Regions from separate parts of the Homo sapiens genome. Here region 1 is linked to region 2. The links come from fine-mapping of genetic effects on gene expression. Tissue or cell type: skeletal muscle. Region 2 holds a variant in brackets; the other region holds the start of a gene. All regions are shown on one strand. Distances are from middle to middle.

Evidence for each region. PIP is the estimated chance that this variant, and not a neighbour inherited with it, causes the effect.
Region 1: FNTB starts here. The variant in region 2 is fine-mapped to the expression of FNTB in skeletal muscle (GTEx, PIP 0.97).

The regions. Positions count from the first base shown.
Region 1 is chr14:64,985,944-64,988,616 of GRCh38, forward strand. FNTB (farnesyltransferase, CAAX box, subunit beta) reads left to right here and starts at 952. Exons shown (of 12, transcript NM_002028.4): 1 at 952-1,154. The coding sequence starts at 1,011. All of the region lies in intron 3 of CHURC1-FNTB (CHURC1-FNTB readthrough), which reads left to right. It overlaps LOC107984655 (a long non-coding RNA gene), which reads right to left and starts at 1,170. Exons shown (of 2, transcript XR_001750792.2): 1 at 737-1,170; 2 at 1-656.
Region 2 is chr14:65,019,686-65,022,533 of GRCh38, forward strand. All of the region lies in intron 6 of CHURC1-FNTB (CHURC1-FNTB readthrough), which reads left to right. All of the region lies in intron 4 of FNTB (farnesyltransferase, CAAX box, subunit beta), which reads left to right. It also overlaps a transcript of MAX not described here. Among named protein-coding and RNA genes, the nearest start is that of MIR4706, 24 kb to the right of the region's middle. RefSeq lists a silencer at 336-385. The variant T/C (reference allele first, on the strand shown) is at 1,291.

The DNA of each region.
Region 1 (2,673 bases), 34 kb before region 2:
TGCCCAGCACATGTCTTCTAAAAGCTGCTGTTTCTTCCTTTTTCAGGAGTTCTTTCCCATACTGTTCTTCTGGATGACTCCTCGTCATCCTTCGGATCTCAAATGAAAGGTCATTTAGAGAGGCTTGGCCTGACCATACAATTCAATTAGTTTCTTACCCCTTTAGTCTCTCTCATAGACCCTGTTATTTTCCTTCATCTCATTTATCACAAGTCTTCATATATTTATTGCGTTGGATACATTCAATTCTGTCGATTTTCTTAGAATGTAAGGTTTCCAAGGGAAGGGACTTCGTTTTGTTCACTTTTGTATTCCTAGAACCTAGCACAATGCCTGACACATAGCAGGTGTTCCATAAATATCTGCGGACTGACTGTCTATTTCACTTATCCTTGTTCCTTGTACTGCATTTCAGTTCTCGCTACTGCAGTGTAACCTCCAAGAGACAGGAGAAAATCATAATACCCCCCTCCCTCCATCACTGAGTGATACTGAGACGGCGTCCTTGCACGTTTGAGCAGCTGCTGCCTTCTCCTGGGAGGCTGTCAAGTACCCCAAGGTGCACAATAATTCTTTTAGTAATTGCCTGACTGAGGCAAATCAGTAGAGCTGTCAGAAATGCTTTCAAACTTAACATTCATTGGGTTCTTGGGCACCTGAAATTGCAAACAATTGCATTACAATTAAGTGAGAATTAGCAGAATGTTACAGTTCTTTAACAATTTGCGTAACAAACCGAGGCGTCCTACGCCATCTCGCTGAAATGAAATTCGGATGTAGACACCCTTGCGCTTCAGGACTCTACGCTCTTGCAGCAGCTCCTCTGCCCAATGGGGGGCGGCAGCATCTCAGTAACTCACTCGAAAGACGGGTAGGCGGGAGGAGACATTCGCGTTCAAAATCTTTTTGCCTCTATCCGCTCGCCGTAGCGCTTTAGCCCGCTCGAGTTTCAATGCGCGTTGTTGCTTAACGAAGCAGAGTCCTACACACTGTCTGCTGCTCTCCTGATCATGGCTTCTCCGAGTTCTTTCACCTACTATTGCCCTCCATCTTCCTCCCCCGTCTGGTCAGAGCCGCTGTACAGTCTGAGGCCCGAGCACGCGCGAGAGCGGTTGCAGGACGACTCGGTGGAAACAGTCACGTCCATAGAACAGGTGAGGTGGCAGGACTGGGCGAGGCGCCCGCGCGATGTGTTCTGGGAGCGCGAGTCCCGTTCGTAGGGCCGCCCGGGTGCGGAACTCACCGGGGAACTACGACTCCCACAGCGCACCGCGGTGCCTTTCCTCTGGGAAGCTCCGGGCGCCCAGGCTTGGGCTTCGTCGTGGAGCGTTTGCGCGGCCAGCTTGGGGAAGGGTCGTTTCAAGGTTGGGCTTGGAGGAGAGGGCAGTAGCCGAGTCCCCTCTGCCCTAAAGAACGAGAAGAATCGTGTTCTATGCCTGGAGGACAGAGGCAGCCCGTGCGGGTCGGACAGCCCACTCTGTTCTGCCAGTACTTCGGGAGGTTCTGGGGTGCATAGTGCACTTTTCCCAACCTGCCCTCAGCTTCTGGAGGCAGAGAGCAGGGCCAGGCTGCTGTCATGCCGTTTCACGATCTGTTTAATTTTTGACCTACAGTGCCAGGTTTGGGGGCCCGCCTCGTGGGTGGGCATTTTGGTAGTCATTCAGCCATTTGAGCACCAGCTACGTGTCGGACACAATATTAAACGATGGAAGTACAAGGAAATAAAACAGCTCCTGACCAGGAGCCTGGTTGGGGGACAGGCAGGAAAACAGTTTGGAAAGTGATCTAATAGAAAGAATGGATTTTGGACTACTAATCATTCCCTAAGGCCTAGAAGTAGGATCGAACCTATCATTTTGAAAAGTGTTTGGCGAATGAGTATATATTCATATGCCCAAAACCATAGTTTTGTTTTTCTTCTTATTCCCTAATTGGAATTGTTCCCAAGGTTGCTATGTGGAACTGTTTATCCATCTGTCCCTAGGAGAAGTGGTTAGGATAATTCTTAACACTAATAAATGAACATTCTGCTGCTTACTGAAATAAGATCTCTTAGTGAGATCAGTCTCCAGGCTTTACCTTGGAGAGACCTGTTTTGTATTTCCTACTTTAAGTTGGAAGCCTGTACTTTGGCAAAATTAGTAACAATAATTGTTTTATTGTACAGTTATGACTAAATAGAATTATAAATTTATAACAGAAACAAGGGCTTGATACGTGGTTATTCACAAAGTAGCAGAGAAAATATTTTAACTGGAGATTTAAACTTCATGGAATTTAGGGTAGCAAAGGAAATCCTCACCTCTCGAATCTAGCTAATTCTCCAGGTTGGTTTGCCTACCAGTGTGTCCCAGGGAAGGCTGACTGCAAAAGATTGTAAAGAAATTTCCCATTGATGAAAAACCTACAGGATCTTTGCAGAATTCCTAAATGATGGATTGCTGAGTTGATTCAGGTCAAGTGTTTTACTTATTATCTGACCTTAGACTATGGGATTGCCTTTTTTTTTTTTTTTTTTTTTGAGATGGGGTCTCGCCCTGTTGCCAGGCTGGGATGCACTGGCTTACTGCACCCTCCGCCTCCCGGGTTCACGCCATTCGCCTGCCTCAGCCTCCAGAGTAGCTGAGACTACAGGCGCCCACCACCACGCCTGGCTAATTTTTGTATTTTAGT
Region 2 (2,848 bases):
ACGCATTGATTTAGTGAACTTTTAAACATTTCTTAGACTTCCCAATAATGTATTTTGCTTTGTGCCTAGGAGGTGGTTACTTCTAGGTGCAGAAAACACTTGTTATGAACAAAGCCTACTGGCTCTGACCCATAAGGAAATAGATTATTTTTAGTAAGATACAGATAAATCTTAAGGACTTCTATATAAATAGAAGATTTTTTTTAGACTAGCTGAAATAGAATATTGCCTTTTTATTTATCTTGCACAGGGAAATGAAATGCTTTGAAATGCGTTCAGTTTTCTTTCTTCATACAAATATATTAAGGTGACCTAGAGTCAAAAAGTCTAGCTCTGCAGTTTTATTATTTTCCTGCCTTCTTTTCCCCTGCATGTAACACACACGCCCCCTACACTTACACAAAGGTTTCTCTTTCCTATTTTGTTCACTGCTGTGCTTCTATTTGTTTAGGGAACAATATGATAAGCTGGGTTCCCTCTAGTGGACAAAATACTTTTGTCAGCTGCTATGACCGCTGACCAAAGCCAGCAAGGCGAGGTTGTTACTGCTGGTATCAGAGGTTTCAAGAATAATGTATTCATAGCCTGGAATGTTTTCTTTATTTTTGGTAGAGACAGTGCCTTGCTGTGTTGCCTGGGCTGGTCTCAATCTCCTGGGCTCAATTGATCCTCCTGCCTTAGCCTCCCAAAACACTGGGATTATAGGCGTGAGCCACCATGCCCAGTCCATAGGTAGGACTTCAGCTTGCCTCTTTTTTTTTTGAGAGTCTCGCTCTGTTGCCCAGACTGGAGTGCAGTGGCACGATCTTGGCTCACTGCAACCTCCACCTCCTGGGTTCAAGCAATTCTCCTGCCTCGGCCTCCCGAGTAGCTGGGACTACAGGCATACAGGCGGGAGCCACCACACCCGGCTAATTTTTGTATTTTTAGTAGAGATTGGGTTTTACCATGTTGGCCAAGTTGGTCTCGAACTCCTGACCTCAGGTGATCCACCTGCCTCAGCCTCCCAAAGTGCTGGGATTACAGGCATGAGCCACCGCGCCCGGCCTTTTTTTTTTTTTTTTGAGACGGAGTTTTGCTCTTGTTGCCAGGCTGTAGTGCAGTGGCATGATCTCAGCTCACTGCAACCTCCACCTCCCGGGTTCAAGTGATTCTCCTGCCTCAGCTTCCCAAGTAGCTAGGATTACAGGGGTGTGCCACCACGCCCAGCTAATTTTTGTATTTTGTAAAGACAGGCTTTCAACATGTTGGCCAGGCTGGTCTTGAACTCCTGACCTCAGGTGATACACC[T/C]GTCTTGGCTTCCCAAAGTGTTGGGATTACAGATGTGAGCCACCGCACCCGGCCTAGCTTCCCTCTTTTAAGAGGTTATATGCACACATTTATATGTGTTTATCTAAAATGAATTAATATTTTGGAACTAGACTAAGTACATTTGCTTTGCTTAATGGTTTTGGCACTGAAGGAAGCATCCTCTAATGAGAATCCCATTCTTTGTTACTGAAAGCAGCTTCAGTGAAACAGAGCAAAATAAAATTCACAGGGAGACCATCGCACTGTTAAAGTTATGTTTTTAGCTTCTGTAAGATTTAAAAATTGCCTTTAACTTAAAAACCATTTTAGGACATTTCAGCTTGTAAGATTTTTCCAAAGATAAATTCAAATTTTGCTATTTCAGTGTTTTATCCTTTCCCTTTCAAAAGGTTGTTAGTAGCTTATCCCCGGAATAGCCCCTTAAATATTTTTCCTTTTAATTTTTAAGTCTAGTTTGTATGTTTCCTTACCTTTCAGTGAGGACACCATATCTAGGCCTTTGTCTCCTGGGCATTTTTCCTGGCCAGGTGCTGTTGGCACCTGGTGGGTGCAGGTCAGAGGTGCTGCTAAATATCCTCTACAGGACGGTCCCTGCACCAAAGAATTACTGAGCCCCAGTGTCAACAGTTGAGAAACTCTGCTCTAAAGTAGCCAACTTTTTTTTCCTTTGAGGCAGTCTTGCTGTGTCCCCCAGGCTGGAGGGCACTGGTGCAATCTCAGCTCACTGCAACTTCCACCTTCCGGGTTCAAGCGATTCTCGTGCTTCAGCCTCCCAAGCAGCTGGGACTACGGGCGCATGCCACTATGCCTGGCTAATTTTTGTATTTTTAGTAGAGATGGGGTTTCACCATGTTGGCCAGGCTGGTCTCAAACTCCTGGCCTTAAGTGATCCGCCCACGTCGGCCTCCCAAAGTGCTAGGATTATAGGCGTGAGCCACTGCGCCCGGCCTATAGTAGCCAACTTTCGACCTGACCATTCTTCCAGAACAGCAGCCATCCAGAGACTTGCCGGTGCTTGATGAAGAGTCAAATAACACGTCTGACTCTGTGAGCAGCAGAGGCCACCCGGAATCAACAAGAGATGCTGCCCGTCTTCACCTGTCCATTGTCATATTCTACCTAGGGAAGGAGATTTCCTCTTCACTATATCAAGCTGAAGCTGTTTTAGTTAGTACGAGAACAAGCTTGATGTGATGCCAGCTCATGCATCTTGCATTTACATCCCCTCCTAAGCCGTTCTGCCCATGGATGACTGTTCCTATTTCCAAAGCTGTAATCTTTTTTTCTGTTTTTTTTTTTTTAAACCTGCCCAATTGTGCAGAACATAGCTATAATTTTTATAACTTATCCTAGGCCTTAAGTCTGTCTATGATAGCCTAGTCTAGTGCTGAAGTTTTTTATGTAACCTAAATACTTCTTGCTACAAATTAGTCTCAGTTTTTACCTACTAGAATGTTTATGTAATTATCCTTTGTATATTTGAGGTATTTTGCTGGGTAGCTTTCTCACTGTGATTGTCTGTAATATTAAGCTTTTT